Linked DNA regions of Homo sapiens. The protein of the gene in region 1 interacts with the protein of each later gene in a pairwise test. Each region holds a gene or a part of one and is shown in the gene's direction. Other genes may lie near its edges.

Region 1 (10,486 bases):
ATGAATATACTGTGTGATGATCAAATCAGGGTAATTAGCATATCTGTCACCACAGACAAAGTTATCATTACTTTGCCTTGGGAACATTCAAAATATGCTCTTCAAGCTAATTGAAAATATGCAATAAATTATTAGAGTTACCCTACAGTGCCTACAGGTGCTCAACCCATTCCTCCTCTCTAGCTGTGCACTTTTATTTTTATTTTTTTGAGACACGGTCTCACTCTGTTGCCCAGGCTGGGGTGCAGTGGTGCAGTCATGGCTCACTGCAGCCTTGACCTTCCAGGCACAGGTGATCATCTCTTCTCAGCCTCCCGAGTAGCTGGGCCTACAGGTGTACACCACCACGCCGGGTTATTTTTTGTAGAGATGGGGTTACGCCATGTTGCCTAGGCTGGTCTAGAACTCCTGGGCTCAAGTTACCCTCCCGCCTCAGCCTATCAAAGTGCTGGGATTACAGGCGAGAGCCACCATGTCCAGCCTCTAGTTGTGCTTTTGTATCTGTTAACCAGCTTTTGTCTATGTCCCTCCTCTTCCCTTCCCAGCCTCAAGTAACCTCTAGTCTACTCTCCACTTCTAGATCAACTTTCCAGCTTCCACATATGAGTGAGAACAGTGCAGTGTTTATCCTTCTGTGCCTGGCCTATTTTACTTAATGTCATCCAAGCTCAGCCATATTGCTGCAAATGGCAGGATTTCCTTCTTTCTTGTGGCTAAATGATGATGTTTTGATATGTGTATGCATTGTGAAATGGCTAAATCAAGCTATTTAACATATACATTACCTCACATACTTATTTTTTGTGATAACACTTAAAATCTACTCTCTTACCTGTTTTCAAGTATACAATATATTGTTATTGATTATAGTTACCATGAGGTACAATAGGTATCTTGACTCTATAGTAAAATTTATATCATTACTTTTAAAAAATAATTGAAGAGAAAGGGGTTTTAATCCCAAGTTCCTACTAGCCTTAAGGCAGGATTCACACAGCATTAATCTCTGTGTGTCCATTGTGCTTTGTACTAATCATTATTACCCAGGGAGCTTTTTTAGAAAAATTGTGCAATGCATAGCAAACAATAATATATATTATATAATTATATTTATTAATATATGATATAGAAGTATGTAATATATAATTACTAATAGTAATATATTACTAATTACTAATTATATATTACATATACAGTTCTATAAACAAAAATATATACTAATATATAATATGTGTGATATAATTATATAATATATATGTGTGATATATATTATATGTATATGTAAAAAAATTTAAAGCCCCTCTTTTCAGCCATGTTGAAGGACTGGCTTCTGGGCAGTATGGAAGCTGGAAGATTTTCTGCACCTCTTATTTCCTCTCCTCCGCTTGGTCCCTCAGCTCTGTAGAGTGGCCCAGGGTTTGTGCATCCCCTCCTCTGGTTGCAGTCTGTGAACAGTTCAGCGAGGGTGAAGCAAGGGCCGTGACTACAGTGGGAGGGGGTGAGCCGGGCTCTGGACAGGAGCCCAGTCTTAGGCTGCTGCTCCAGTGGTACCCAGGCAGGGCTGACAGCCCAGTAGGGAGGGGCCTTTTTTTTTTTTTTTTTTTAATGCCTGTCACCTTTGTCTCCCAGCAACCCAGAAGTCTCTGCCACCCTGGAGGAAAGTGATCCCACTTCTAGGTATCAGTAGCTTAATGGGCTACCCTCTGTGACATTTATTGTTACTCTATAAGTCTGGGTTAAGCAGGGCTAGCCTGTCTGGAGAAGCTCATGATCTCCTTTTAGGCATTATGCCTGCAACTTGAGTAGCTGCCACCGATGAATGGTGGTGCCTGGCTGTGCTTCCATTGCACAAATGCACAAATAGTCAGGTTCCTTCTAGGTATGGGGCCAAGAAAGAAAGCTTGAGCATAGCTGGAGTCCAGACAATGGTGTCCTCTGGCTCAGACAGACATCATTCATTCAGAATCAGCCAAATGACTTCTGATTGCTTGGGATAATGAATGTAATTCAAATTGAGAGAAAATACAGATTTACATAGCAATGCTGTGCTTTCCTTATATGAAACATCAACTACTGCTTCTTACTGCTTTGCTCATCTATGTTTTTTACACCGAGGAGAGACCTTTGTGTTTTTCACTTATGCTTTGAAGTTTCAAATGTTAGGCTTTTGTTTAGAAGCACTTTCTGCATGTGCGTATTCCCTCTGTCAGCCTGCTGGCCATTTATTTGAAAGCAACATCCAGAAGTGACTGGCTGATTAGAAGAAGGGCATCAGTTGATCTTTTTTTGGCGGGGGTTGGGGGACAGGGTCTCACTCTGTCACCCAGGCTGGAATGTAGAGACATGATCTCGGCTCACTGCACCCTCTACCTCCTGGGCTTAAGGGATCCTCCCACCTCAGCCTTCTGAGTGACTAGGACTACAGGCATGTGCCACCACGCCCAACTAATTAAAAAAAATTGTAGAGACAAGGTCTTAACTATGTTGCCCAGGCTGGTCTCAAACTCCTGGGCTCAAGCAATCCTCTTGCCTCAGCCTCTCAAAGTGCTGGGATGACAGGCATGAGCCATTGTGCCTGGCCAGTTGATCTTCTTAAGTGTGAGTAACTAGCTCTTTCTACTCAGCCCGTCTTCATTTTTCTCTTTCTCTTTTTTCAAAATTAAAGTGTATTGGGATTATCTCTACTGTAAAAATAATACTTATTACAGAAAATCCTCATTATCAAAAATAAAAGACATGGGGAAAAATCACCCATCATGTGAAGATTCAGTCTCTGTTAATATTTTTAAGTGTTTCTTTTCTGTCTTTTTTTTTGTGCATTTGAATTTCTTTTTTTTTTTTTTCACAGTTCTGATTAGTTTTTAAGAAAATTATTGTGGTTGAATATACATGGCCTAAAATTTGCCATGTAACCATTTATACATGTACTCTTCAACTGTTTTTAAAGTAGGAACTAGCGCCGGGCCCGGTGGCTCCTGCCTGTAATCCCAGCACTTTGGGAGGCCGAGGCAGGTGGATCACTTGAGGTCAGGAGTTCAAGACCAACTTGGACAATATCGTGAAACCTTGTCTCTACTAAAAGTATTAATACAAAAGTTAGCTAGGCATGGTGGCATGCTCCTGTAATTCCAGCTACTCAGGAGGCTGAGGCAGGAGAATCACTATCCAGCCTAGGCGAGAGAGTGAGACTCCGTCTCAAAAAAATAAAAAATAAATTAAAAAAATAAATAAAGTAGGAACTAATTCCCTGCAAGCAACAGGTTTTTTCTTCTCATGTGTCTTCAACTTCGTTTTCTTTCCACATCAGAACTGAAAAGTCAGAAGTGTGGTCACTGTTAACTGGTACCTGCCTGCACGTACTGGTCTTCTGTTTTCTCTGTAGTACGACATTGCCTTGGCAGCTGAATTTGTATCACTCCAGCGAGCTCCCTGCCAGATGGTAGCAATAGTTCAGAGCCGCTATAAATGTGTTTTCTGAGAGTTCTGTGAATGGCTTATTGACTACTGAGCAACTTCAGGCTCCTTCTGTCCTATATTCTTTCTGAATGAAGATTTTGAACCACAGACAAAACAGTGCAGTTTTTCACACAGTATCATAATGATTTCCTCACGTCTCTTCTTAGGGTACTTGTAATTTTTAATGAAGTTAGAGGATACAGTATATAGCCCAGACTATTTAAGCTCAGAGAGTGAAATTGTAAACACTCTGCTACTGCAGTGGGGATGTATTTTTGGTCAGAGGCCCATCCAAAGATTCTTTAAAGAATAATTCACAATTTTGATTAGTTGCTGTTTCTTTAGATGACTTCGTGTATGTGTTTTGCTTTTCCTTCTGTTCCAGGGCCACCACTGCCCAGTTCGGGAAATGAGCAGCACTCATCAGCCTCCATCTTCGAGCACGTGGACAGGATCTCCCGCCCCCCGGAGGCTAGCCGGCGGGTCCCCAGTAAGATCCAGCTTATCGCCATGCAGCCGATCCCGGCACCTCCCGTCCAGCGCCCCTCCCCAGCCGACCGAGTGGCGGAAAGCAATAAAATCAACAAAGAGGTATTTGCTTTTATTTAAAAGTCTGTTACTTAAAAAACTCGGCTAAGCCCGGTGGCTTATGCCTGTAATCCCAGCACTTGGGGGGGCCAAGGCAGGCAGATCGCCTGAGGTCGGGAGTTTGAGACCAGCCTGGCCAACATGGTGAAACGCCATCTCTACTAAAAATACAAAATTAGCTGGGCGTGGTGGCGGGTTCCTGTAATCCCAGCTGCTCAGGAGGCTGAGGCAGGAGAATCACTTGAACCCGGGAGGGGGAGTTTGCACTGAGCCGGGATCTCGCCACTGCACTCCAGCCTGGTTGACAGAGTGAGACTCCATCTCAAAACAAAAACAAAAACAAAAAAAACTCACACACTTATTGGGTCTGTGTTTGAAAATGAGTGCAAGGTACAGTGTCAACTAGTTACTGAAGGCATAAGCTGCTGACAAGGATTCTTAATGTAAAACATCACGCTTGTTGGAGATCAGATACTGTGCATGGACACTCTGGGGCGCATTGGCAGACATGCAGAAAAGTGTTAGTGCGGCCGACCAGGGGCTGCCCTCCTCAGAAAGAGCCACTTCAGCTTCTGATCCTCCTCACGCTTCAACGCAGTTCAGGTTTCCGTCTTTGGGGATACCACTCTGGGGGCAGGGGGTCTCATGTCAGGTAACTTGTTTTGGTGACACTAGGTAATTATCCTCTTTATATCTGTCAGTCCTATTTATTAAAGATCTCTAAAGGAGGAAAATATTCTTTTCTGGTTATCAGATGTCTCTTTAAAGTTGTCATTGGCCGATTTCCAAGGTTCGAGTGACTTTTTTTCCCTGCTTTGGGGGATGGTGACAAGACTCCAGTGCACCACACAGTGCTTGAGGGTAAAGCTCGTGGGATGGCAGGGTCTCTGCTCCTCCCTGGTCTGTGCCTGTCGCTCTCTCGGTGACTCCGTGGAGCTTACAGACAGCAAGTTAAGTGTGGGCCAGAGGAGAGGAGCATAGCAGGAAGGCGCTCCTAGAAGGCTTTGCTGGCTGGGCATGGTGGCTCACACCTGTAATCCCAGCACTTTGGGAGCTTGATGTGGGCGTATCATTTCAGGTCAGGAGTTCGAGACCAGCCTGGCCAACATAGAGAAACCCCATCTCTACTAAAAGTACAAAAAATGAACTGGGCATGATGGTGCGTGTCTGTAATCCCAGCTACTCGGCAGGCTGAGACAGGAGAATCACTTGAACCCGGGAAGTGGAGGTTGCAGCGAGCTGAGATCATGCCATTGCACTCCAGCCTGGGCAACAGAGTGAGACTCTGTCTCAAATAAATAAATAAACATAAAAATAAATAAAGACTTTGCGAAGTGTGTGTCCCAGAAGCTTCCCGGGACCTCTATGGCTGTCTTTCTCTCCCTCACCCTTCCTCAGATTCAGACCGCGCTGCGGCACAAGTCTGAGATCGAGCACCATCGCAACAAGATCCGCCTGCGCGCCAAGCGCCGCGGGCACTACGAGTTCCCGGTGGTAGACGACCTGTCCTCGGGCGACACTAAGGAGCGACACCGGGTGTACCGCAGGGCACAGATGCAGATCGACAAGATCCTGGACCCCACGGCCAGCGTGCCCTCCGTGTTCATAGAGCCCAGGAAGAGGTGGGCTGGGGCTCTGCGCTAGGCGGTGGGGCGGGCGCGCAGAGGTGCTGCGGGGGGCACAGGAGCAGGACAGGAGCCCCTCTGCTACTGCAGGGCCTGTGACAGAAGGACCCCATCCGTGTTCACGTGGAGGTCTCTGAAGACAGTTGAAGGGGCTCATGCACAGAAGGATGTGGAGGCCACTCGGAAGGCTTACCCTGGCTGAGGGTCACCTTAGTGTGGGAGGCGTTGGCTTTGTTCTCAACTCTGCCCCTCTGCCTGCCTCGGGGCATTTCCTGGGGCTTAATCTGTCTCTTCCAATTCAGCCTGTCTAAAACTGCACTCACCCTTTCCTTCCCACACTGGCTCCTTCTGTGGTGTCCTTGGCTCTTCCTCACCTCCCACTCTGTCACCTCCAATATTTTCATCTCCCGGAGCCACCCAGGCTGGCACCCAGCAGATCTTCGTTGGTTTTCTCACAGCTGCCTGCAGGGTCTGGGGTCTTACCTTCCCCTGGTCTCCCAGACTCCCGTCCCCGACATAGATGCGTTTTCCTTAAACACGGCTCTCATGTATGTCTTTCTCTACTCAAAACCTGAGGTGGCTCTTATTGCCTGCCAGGTGGGTCCTGTGCTCCCGTCGCAGGCCGGCCCTGCCCCTCCACTCCAGCTCTTTTTCACGGGTCAGCCACACGGACAGAACTGCCACCCAGGAGACGGCCTGGTAGCCCCTGAACATTCACCTGCCTGCCGTTTCTGCCCCTGGCACCTGCTTCCCACATCCTCCCTGGCTTCAGGTCCCATTCACTCTTCAAGACCTAGTTCTGGGCCAGGCGTGGTGGCTCACGCCTATAATTCCAGCACTTTGGGAGGCCAAGGCAGGCGGATCACGAGGTCAGGAGTTAGAAGTTCAACACCAGCCTGGCCAATATGGTGAAACCCCGTCTCTACTAAAGATACAAAAATTAATTGGGCGTGGTGGCAGGCGCCTGTAATCCCAGCTACTCAGGAGGCTGAGGCAGGAGAATTGTTTCAACCTGGGAAGTGGAGGTTGCAGTGAGCCGAGATCACGCCATTGCACTCCACCCTGGGCGACGGTATGAGACTACATCTCAAAAAAAGAATAATAAAATAAAAAAGACCTAGTTCTAGCCCCATGGGACTAATAGCTCCCACTGACTTCTTTTCTGAATGTCATGATTACAAATGGCTTTATATCATTCTGTGTTGCTTCATGTGGGTTAATAGGTCTGTTTAGGTATGCTCTGAGCTTCCTTAGAGCAGAGACTGTCTCGTACATGGCGTTTATATCCTATGGGGTGTTTCCAGGGGTAGCACATCCTAGGTACTCAGGGTACTTAGTGTTTAGTTGGTAAGTCAGTGGCAAAAAGGGTGATTTCCTACGAAGATAATTTCTCTTTTTCCTGGCAGCTCACGGATAAAACGTTCTCCCAAGCCTCGCCGGAAACACCAGGTCAACGGCTGTCCTGCCGACGCTGAGAAGGACCGGCTCATCACCACAGACAGCGATGGCACCTACAGGAGGCCCCCCGGCGTCCACAACTCAGCCTACATCGGATGCCCAGTGCGTGCCACCGACTCCAGTTTCTGGAACTCGGGTGGGGCGGCTCCTAGAAAGATGCGCTGAAAGGGGAGGAGAAGCAGCAGCACTGGCTGCCGCCCTGTGTGGTATCAGTGCCTGATGCCTGATGGCTGATGCACCAGGGCCCTCTAGGTCATGAAGTGGGTGGGGTGGGGTGCCACCCCTTCTGAGGGGAGACTTGAGTGCTGTCAGCCAGGGTGCTGCCGAGTGCCACCTCTGGAAACACACTCCGTGTTTTTCCTCTCTATACGTAAGCCCCGTTCTCTCAGACTTCACAGTGGGACTTTTTTCGAGGTTAACTGGAAAACAGAGAGAGAGAGAAATATCCTCAAGGTTTTTTTCCTTCTCCCTAGTCAGAGGGTTATTTGGTTTTGTTGTTTATTTTTATTATTTTTTTTTTTTGGGACAGGGTCTTACTCTGTTGCCCAGGCTGGAGTGCAGTGGTGTGATCCAGGCTCACTGTAGCCTCAGCCTCCTGGGCTCAAGTAATTTTCCCACCTCAGTCTGCTGAGTAGCTAGGACCATAGGCATATGCCACCATGCCCAGCTAATTTTAAAAATTTTTGTAGAGATGGGGTCTCAGCATGTTGCCCAGGCTGGTCTCAAACTCCTGACCTCAAGTGATCCTCCCGCCTTGGCCTCCCACAGTGCTAGGATTACAGGTATGAGGGCATGACCCTGTGATCAAGAGTCTCATACTCTACTGACTGAGCTAGCCTGGCTGGGTTTCCTAATGAGAGGAGGGATATTTAGGGTTTTATTTCCCTGTACTGTCCTTGGAGTGCTAAGAAGATAGCGTATTTGCTTATATATATTTTGCTTTTATGGGAGAAAGAGGTTAATGGAAATTAAGAAATAATGAGTGGTGGCTCAGACCTGTAATGCCAGCACTTTGGGAGGCTGAGGTGGATGGATCGCTTGAGCCCAGGTGTTGGAGACCAGCCTGGGCAATATAGCGAAACCCCGTCTCTCCAAAAAATACAGAAATTAGCCAGGCGTGGTGGTGCATGCCTGTAATCCCAGCTACTTGGGAGGCTGAGGTGGGAGAATCGCTTCAGCCCAGGAGGTCGAGGCTGCAGTGAGCTTTGATCGCACCACTGCACTCCAGCCTGGGTGACAGAGCAAAACCCTGTCTCTAAATAAATAAATAAGGGATTATTTTTTTCCAAAGTAAAAGAGGTCCAGACAGATTTGCTTGAAGTGTTAAAGGCAGTTATTGATAGCGTAAGATGCATACACACAGACTGCATTGAGTAGGGGAGAGAGAACCAGCCTCACTTAACCCATGAGAAATACAGACACAAAGATACCCGAAGACAGAGAGGGCGAGCCAGGTGCCGCTAACTCCGGCAGCACTGGGAAACACAGGGCGTCCTAAACTCCATACCAGGAGAGCCCTGCCTTGCTGCAGCAGGCCCCTTTCACCTCCTGGAGGCACTCACAGAGCCAGCCTGGTTTAGAGACACGTTAGCAAAAAGCACAGCCTTTGAGAAGGGATTTGCGATGGATGTGATCGCTTTAGATAGACCTTATGCAACCAGCCATTTCTTAGTTGAGGTTTGTATTTTTCTCCTAAATTATATAAATAACAAGCACTTAAATAGGCTAAATATAATTACACAAATGTGCAAACATTATACTGGGATGGGGCCTAAATACAACTGAATTATGATCATCTGAAAGAATGAGACTTTTCCTTAGGAACTTACGGTATTTCTAGGGTCTTAAAGACCGACCTTCTTGATCTACTCATGGGGATCAGTGCGATTTCAGAGTTAGGCTGTCTGTAAATGAAACTACTGTCTTCCTCAGTACGAGGAATTGAGTAGTTCCTGTTACTTTCTAAATGTGGTGCATGGCTGCTCTTACAGTAGGTGGTGCTCTTGTGCTGTGTTGGGTTCTGGGGGTATTTGGGCATCTGTGGGGTTTGGCTTGATCTGGGGAGGGCTCCCCAGGGTTGTCACCCGGAGCTTTTGTAAACTGTGCCAAGTGGAGACTTGCTGTGGTGTGAAACAGATAGAAGGGGCAGCATCCCTTCTTGTCCCTTCACTTCTCCAGCCAACCTGGGCTCCTCTCTCAAAGGAATTTGTGGGGAACCCTCTCAGTCCCCCTCTCTTTGATTTTTTTAAATGATTGAGTTTTGTATGGGGAGGAACCTGTCTTCTCCTGGCTGTCTTCATTTGCCTGCTTCAGTGACTCTAGATCAGCCTTCTTTTGCGGTAGCTTTGCAGCATCGTTTTCTTCCTTTTTTCCTTAGCAGAGAGTGCAGGGATTCCTCCTCCTGTGGGTGCAGAGCAGCCTCTTCCTGGAAGACACCACCCCAGAGGCTGCTTGCCTTCAGTGGCTCCTTTTTTAAAAGATTGCCCCAAAATAAAAATCTTCCTCAGATTTTGAATTCTGAAACACTTTAAAAGATAATGCCTGTCTCAGAACTCATCTTTTCTTAGGTAGTTTATCTTTTTTTCCCTCAACTTGTATTTTAGAATCAGTGGTACATGTACAGGGTTTTTTTTTTTCATCTTCAAGCCTATACTAGGGAAGTACTATGTGTTTTTGAATTACCTTGAATTTTCCACTTTCCCCTCAAAAATATCTTCTCCTTGAGCGGTGTGTTCTCCTAAGGCCAAGAGAAATATTCCTTGGTTCCTTGTAATAAGGGTGACCATTATAATTCAGGCCTTGGTAGAAATCCAGCCAGCTGCTTGTTCTTGTAAGTAACTTTTTTTTTTTGAGACACTCCAGCTCTGTTGCCCAGGCTGGAGTGCAGTGGTGCAATCACGGCTCACTGCAGCTTCAACCTCCCCAAGCTCAGGTGATCCTCCCACCTAAGCCTCCCAAGTAGCTGGGATTACAGGCACATGCCACCTTGCCTGGCTAATTTTTGTATTTTTAGTAGAGATGGGCTTTCACCTTGTTGCCTAGGCTGGTCTCAGACTCCTGGGCTCAGCGATCCTCCTGCCTTGGCCTCCCACATTTCTGGGATTATAGACATGAGCCACCAAACCTGGCCTAAATAGAGTTTTATTGCAACACAACCGCACCCATTTGTTGGCTTGATATCAATGACTGTTTTTGCTGCAAGGCAGAGTTGAGTGGTTGTGACAGACTATATGACTCATAAAACCTAAAGTCTTTACTGTCTGGCCCTTTACAGAAAAAGTTTGATGTAATTTGTCATCCAATCCAGACACTTTTGGAAGTGTAAGGGGGTGTTCTATTAATAATGACCGTGGGACAAC
Region 2 (7,000 bases), on another chromosome or scaffold:
CTCTAAATAAATTAAAAATAAAAATTGTGTCCGACAGAGGTGGGTTGAGTTCTAGTCCTGTTACACACTGACTCTGGGACCTCAGCTATGTCTGAGCCTTAGTTGCTTCATCTTTAATAGGACCTTCCTTGCCTAATTGCTCTCAAGACTAAATGAGAATATATATACCTGGACAGTTCCATTATTAATATATTAAGGTTAGAATATATTAATATATTAAGGTTAGAAATGAGCATGGTGGTATGGTGTCCATATGCTGCATAGAAATAGAAGAAGAGAGTTGAAAGTTGATAGAATCAATTCACTCCCTGGGCATGGAGGAAGGGAGGTGCAAGATGGAGCAGGGGAAAAGGGCATAGAAAAGAAAAGGGAAAGTACTTTTGCTCCTAATCTAGCACCACCTACCACAAGGTCATGGCCCAAGATCTGCTTCTGAAACTTTGCCCAGAATCCTTTACTTTTTGGTGAAGAAGATTTTTAAGATTTGAAAATACATTTTATTTTAGAAATGAAAATGCACCTTGCCTCAAAGAAGGTAAAATTTGTATTTTTCCAGGTAGAAAAGATGTGTTTCAAATGACCGTGAAAGTAAAACATGCCCACTATAAAAATAAAACAGACAATGTAGAAAAATCTCTGCATTTACATGGTTAAAAAATACTTGCAATCCCATCATCCTAGATAACCAAAATTAAACTTTGGTTTCTATCTTTCCAGGTACTTTCAATGTATCTATGCATGTCAAGATAACTATTTGGCTTGCATATTAAGGTGGGAAATTACCACAAACTATTAAGGACCCACTTCTTTTATTTAACACAGTTGTTTTCAGTCTCCTTCCTACCTTTCCAAAGGTCACACAAATGGCATACTCTCATCAGTAAACTGTCTTATTTCCTATGGTATTCTAAATCCAGAGCCATGTTCCTATCCTCCAATCCCACCTCACCCCTGCCATTGGAAGGCTCTGGTCCATTATAACCATATATCATGGACATCTTTGGATGGTAATGAAAAAATATATATCTTTTTTCATGGCTGCATGATATTCTATTTAAAAATAACAGCTAACTTGTATTACATTCTTAGCCGAATAGTAGGCAACAGGCTAACCAACTTGCAGGCATAATATCACTGAATCAGGATTCAGGGATCACCAAAATCCTACAAAGGAAGGTTGTTATAACTCCCATCTTAAAGGTGAGGAAATTAAAGCCCAGGAAGATTAAGTAACTTGCTCAGGTGGCAAAGCTAGCAAGCAACAGAGCCAGGATTTGAACCCAGGTGTTCTAATACCAGGGCCCATCCTCCTAACCATGATGTCTACCCCTTTCATTATTTATGTGCCCATTTATTAATAGCAACGAGGTGTGTGTTTCTTGCAAACCTTACTTACTCCAACATCTAGATGTTTTTCTTATTTATATTGAAAGGATATGCTTTTTCAGAACAGGAATGAATCTGCTGTGGCTTCTCAGCTTATCAGCTAGCAAATGGGAGCTAGGCCAACCTCATCTGTAATGTGAACAGTCACTAAGTACTGATGTGTTTGTATGTTTCTAAAATGACCTTGAGGTTGCTTGGCTCTGGTGATGGAGGGAAGGACTGATGGATGAGGTCGAGTTGCTGAATTGACTGTCCTTCACAATTCCATATTTATTTGTTTATCTTCCATCTCTCATTATGACCTGTCTGGAAGTTGGCAGAAAAGCAGGGAGGATTTATGGATGTGCCCAGATAGAACTGGGCTTGGGGTTAAAGTCTCTTGTGGCAGCCACTAAAAAGCAAAAACAGAAACAAACACGGATACAAAATACAGACAGAGCTCCCAGCACAATTGAGTTTGAATAGTTGTTTTAGAGACACACAGGCACATCAGTACTTAGTGTTTGTATTCATTATAGGGTGAGGCTGGCCCAGGCCCCACTTCCTCTTTGTCAGACTGAGAAGCCAAGACAGATGATGTGCCTGTAGAAATAGTTTCCTGCTGCCACCTTCTCTCCTCATGGCTGTCTTGTCTCCATTGGGCAATTCATCTTTACTGTCTCCCCAGTCTTTGGCCTCTTTCCTCCATGTTCTTATCATTCCACTCATCTCTCCTCTTTCTGGGATCTGGCAGTTGTATCTTAACACAGGACAGATAGATCCCTCCACTTTTCAAAGTCTTCTCAGTTTGATCCTCAGCAAAGAAGAAAGGCTGGATTCCTTCATTGTTTACCATGAAGGAGAGTGAGACTGATGGAGGTTAGGTGACTTGTCTTCCACTGGTAATTCAGAAGTATTTATTGAGTAGCTACTATGTACAAAGGAAGGGGCTAGTGAAGCAGATGCTATGCCCAGGATTCAGGGTTCACCTGATATGGTTTGGCTTTGTCCCCACTCAAATCTCATCTTGAATTGTAGCTCCCATAATTCCCACGTGTCATGGGGGTACCCAGTGAGAGGTAATTGAATCATGGGAGCAGGTCTTTCCCATGCTGTTCTCTTGATAGTGAATAAGTCTCAAGATATCTGATGGTTTTATAAAGGCGAGTTCCCATGCACATGCTCTCTTGCCTGCTGCCATGCCACATAAGACGTGCCTTTGCTCCTCCCTTGACTTCCACCATGATTGTGAGGCCTCCCCAGCCATGTGGAACTGTGAATCCATTAAATCTCTTTCCTTCACAAATTACCCAGTCTTGGGTATGTCTTTATTAGCTGCGTGAGAACAGACTAATACATCACTCAACCAGTTACACCAGCTGGGACCCAAGTGCCAACATCTTTATTTCTTACCCCTTGTTATCAGGCCCCATGGAAAATCTAGCCTAAGTCTCTTGTTTTAAGAGACCAATATACCGTGTGCTGGTTTCCCGTTGACCTTCTCGCCCCAATCCAGACATAGTCTCGCTCCATATTTTTCCTGCTAGAGGAGTCTGCTTTGCTCTTATAGTTCATTCACTCATTCCACAAATATTTACTGAGCACCAGCTACATGCCAGGCACTGTCTCAGGCACTAAGAAGCAGTAATAGAAACAAACAACGACTACCCTGCCTCCCTGGAACTTATAGTCTAGCTGGAGATCAGATATTTACCAAACAGTCACAAAAACAGTGGCAGATGGCAGCTGTGGAAGGGCTTTAGGAAAAAAGAATCTGGGGCTGAGAGCTTATAACTGAGGCCCATTTCGGGTTTGTGGGATACTAATGTGCATAGATGTAGAGGAGAATATAGCTTCATTGTTGATTGAATGTTTTCAAGTCACCCCTTATGTTTATTAGCACTGACAACAAAGGCTTAACCCCTTAGTGTCCCCACTGCCATCACACTCACCCGGTCTCGTACAAGCACCTCTCAACTGGCCTCCCTGCCTATTTTCTTGGCTCCCTTCATCAGTCTCTTTTCCACATTAAAGCCAAAGAATGTGAACTGGTTTGTGCCGTGTCCCAGCTTAAAACTTTCAATGGCTTTCCAATGCCCTTAAAATGAAGACCAACAACCCTAATCCCCTCCTCCTCCTGAATACCTCCTCCTTCTCAATGCCTCCCTGGACTCTCTGGCCCCTCCCTGCCCATCTTACATCTGTCACCCCCAGCCCTCATTGCCACAGCCACACTGACTCCTCCTTATTTCTTCAGGCACTTGGGGTCTTCACACGTATTGTTCCTTCTCTCTAAAATAAATTACAGCTCTCCATTCACCTATCCATCTTTCATGCATCATCTCAAAGGTGTTTTCTTTCAGGAAGGCTTTCTTGACCACATATTAGAATAGATTCCTAGCTATAGGTTCTTGTGGACCCTTGTCTTGATAGCACTTGTTCCAGATCGTAATCATATTTGCATGGCATTATTAGGATTATGTCAGTTGGACTCCATGAGAGCTAAATCTGTGTCTTCCTCACCGTTGTATTCCTGACACCTGGTACAGTGTCTTCCACCTAGAGAGTAACCAAAGAAAGGATGAATGGGTTCATGGAAAAGTTTATAATCATTACAGTTAAAAGGATAGCCCCAAACCTTATTGTTCAATTCCTTTGGTGTATGGATAAGAAATTGGAGAATCAGGCCAGGCATGGTGGCTCACGCCTGTAATCCCAACTCTTTGGGAAGCCCAGGCGGGTGTATCACTTGAGGTCAGGAATTGGAGACCAGCCTGGCCTACATGGAGAAACCCCGTCACTACTACTAAAAACATAATAATGATACAAAAATTAGCTGGGGATGGTGGCAGATGCCTGTAATCCCATCTACTTGGGAGTCTGAGGCAGGAGAATCGCTTGAACCCAGGAGGCAGAGGTTGAGTGAGCCAAGATCGCACCACTGTACTTCAGCCTGGGCAACAAAGTGAGATTCTGTCTCAAAAAAAAAAAAAAGAAAAAGAAAAAGAAATTAGAGAATCAGAGAGGGGAGATGATTTACTCAAGGTCACACAGCAAGTTAGAGGCAGACCTGGCCTGAGATCATGAGTTACAGCTCCTGCCACAATGCTCCATTGCCTTTCCAGAGACTTCCTCCACTAGCCTCAAAACACTGGTATTTGAGATCTATAATGTGTTGGTTAGATGGAGAAACCATCCCCATTAAGTGTTACAGGTTTGCAGATGAATTATTTAGCTCATTAAGGCTCATAAGGCCTGAGGATTCATTTGAAACTATTTTGTCTATAATTAATTTTCAAATTAACTCTAAGGTCTCATCTGAGTACCAGTTCCCACTCATAAGGAAGCAGGCCATGGCCTCTACCCTGTGAGGCAAACCCTCAGCCATCCTTTCTAAATTAGTTCATTAAAGTCAACAATAAACCGGAGCCTTTTTAAAAAAAAACATCTCTCCACCCCAGAAACGCTTTGTGATGAAGCATGAGGCAATGAGATGCCCCCAGGCAGTGCTGTCTCATGGCCAACAAGTGCATTTCCTGAAATCTGACAGGGGAATGAACATTTGCTCTGCCTCTTGAAGGATATTTATGCACCTTCTGAAGTGTGACCAGGACGCAGCTCAAACGTGTCAGATGCTTCCTCTCCGTGAATATGAAGCGGCGGCTTCACTGCCTTGTATTACACCCCAGAACCATGTAGCTCATGTAAGCTTCCGAATGGTGGGCAGTGGAGCAAAAATAAGACTTTCTTAATAGAAGAAGTCTTGGTCCCAGGACTCAACCAGGTAGCACCAGCAGACCAACCAGGGATTTTCCACCAGGGGGGAGAGGTTTTCATCAAGCAGGAGAACCCTGCAGGGAAGGAAGGAACCCGGGTGAAGTAAAAAGACTACCCATTGGTAGTCAGACAATTTGAGCTACCAAAAGGAAGTCCCTTCCCCTCTCTGAAGTCTCAGTTTTTCATCTACAAAATAAACTTAACCTAACACCTATATTCATTGTTAATTCACTTTTAAAGTGTCAGGTGCTGAAGACATTCTAGGACCTGAAGACATTGTGAGGAACAAGAAGGACACGTTCCTTGCCCAAGTAGAGTTTACATTTCAGGAAGGAAGAGAGAAAATTAAATATATGTTTACCTGATACTTGTATACTTTCAATTAAAAGTATCATTGAAGGGATAAAAGGAGGTACAAATAGTGGTTAATGTTTAATGCTATGTGCCTGATATCATGCCAGGCACTTTACATATAATAATAATAACAGCAACAAGTGTAACATGGGCCAGGCACTATTTTATGTGTGTTTTACACATTAACACATTTAATCCTCATTTTAAAATACATACTGGCCTAGGCAACACAGCAAGACCCTGTCTCTACAAAAAGTTTAAAAAATTATCGAGGCATATTGGCACACACCTATAGTCCCAGTTACTTGAGGGGCTGAGGCAGGAGGATGGCTTGAGCCCAGGAGTTTGAGGCTGCAGTGCATCGTGATCACTACTGAAGTCTGGCTTACATAACAGAGCAAAGTCCTGCCTCTATTTAAAATAAAAAATTAAATTCTGGGTGCATTGACTCATGCCTGTAATCCCAGCACTTTTGGAGGCCGAGGTGGATGGGTTGCTTGAGCCCAAGAGTTTGAGACCAGCCTGGGCAACATGGTGAAACCCTGTATGTACCAAAAATACAAAATAAATAAATAAATAAATAAATAGCCAGGTGTGGTGGCATGCACTTAGTCCCAGCTACTCAGGAGGCTGAAGCTGGAGGTCGCTTGAGCCTGGGAGGTGGAGGTTACAGTGAGCTGTGATTGTCACTATAGTCCAGCCTAGGTGACAGAGCAAGACTATCTCAAAAAGAAATTAAACATTAAATAAATACTATTATCCCCATTTTATAAATGGAAACACTGAGGTACAAAGAGGTTAACTTGCCCAAAGTCCCACAGCCACTAAGGGGCAGAGAACCTATGCAGCCCGGGCACAGGTCTGTATACCATGTGCTGCCTCTCATGATAGTATCATCTCATTTAATCCTTGCACCAACCTGGTAAGTACAATTGTTATTCTCATCTTACAGATGTGGACACAGAAGCAGAATGTGTAAGAGACTACTCTGAGTTTGCACAGCCAGGAGGTGGTGGGGCAGGGTGAGACCCACAGTGGTTCCTCCTGGGATGCACGTGAGGTGGACTGGCCCAGTGTCCAGCCCCAGGGAACTGGTACCTCTGTGGTAAACTCTCCTACTGTCTTTCCTGGCCTTGTTCTTGCTCAGGTGTTCCTGAAGAGCGACCGTGTGGCCCGCATGGTTCAGAGTGGAGGCTGTTCCGCCAACGACTCCCGGGAGGTCTTCAAGAAGCACATTGAGAAGAGAGTGCGCAGCCTGCCTGAGATTGACGGCCTCAGCAAGGAGACTGTGCTGAGCTCCTGGATGGCCAAATTTGATGCCATCTACCGTGGAGAAGAGGACCCGCGGAAGCAGCAGGCCCGGATGACAGCCAGCGCAGCCTCCGAGCTGATTCTGAGCAAGGAGCAACTCTATGAGATGTTCCAGAACATTCTTGGGATCAAGAAGTTCGAACATCAGCTCCTTTACAATGCCTGCCAGGTAAGGTGTTTCTCGCCTGGGCCT

The links.
Region 2: the proteins of KIAA1549 (region 1) and CADPS interact in a two-hybrid assay, tested with the Homo sapiens proteins (one study listed by BioGRID and IntAct).

The regions. Positions count from the first base shown.
Region 1 is NC_000007.14:138,864,718-138,875,203, reverse strand, and holds part of KIAA1549 (UPF0606 protein KIAA1549), read left to right. Parts: intron 1-3,841; coding exon 3,842-4,047; intron 4,048-5,442; coding exon 5,443-5,666; intron 5,667-7,075; coding exon 7,076-7,229; intron 7,230-10,486. UniProt on the Homo sapiens protein: May play a role in photoreceptor function.
Region 2 is NC_000003.12:62,753,417-62,760,416, reverse strand, and holds part of CADPS (calcium-dependent secretion activator 1), read left to right. Parts: intron 1-6,643; coding exon 6,644-6,976; intron 6,977-7,000.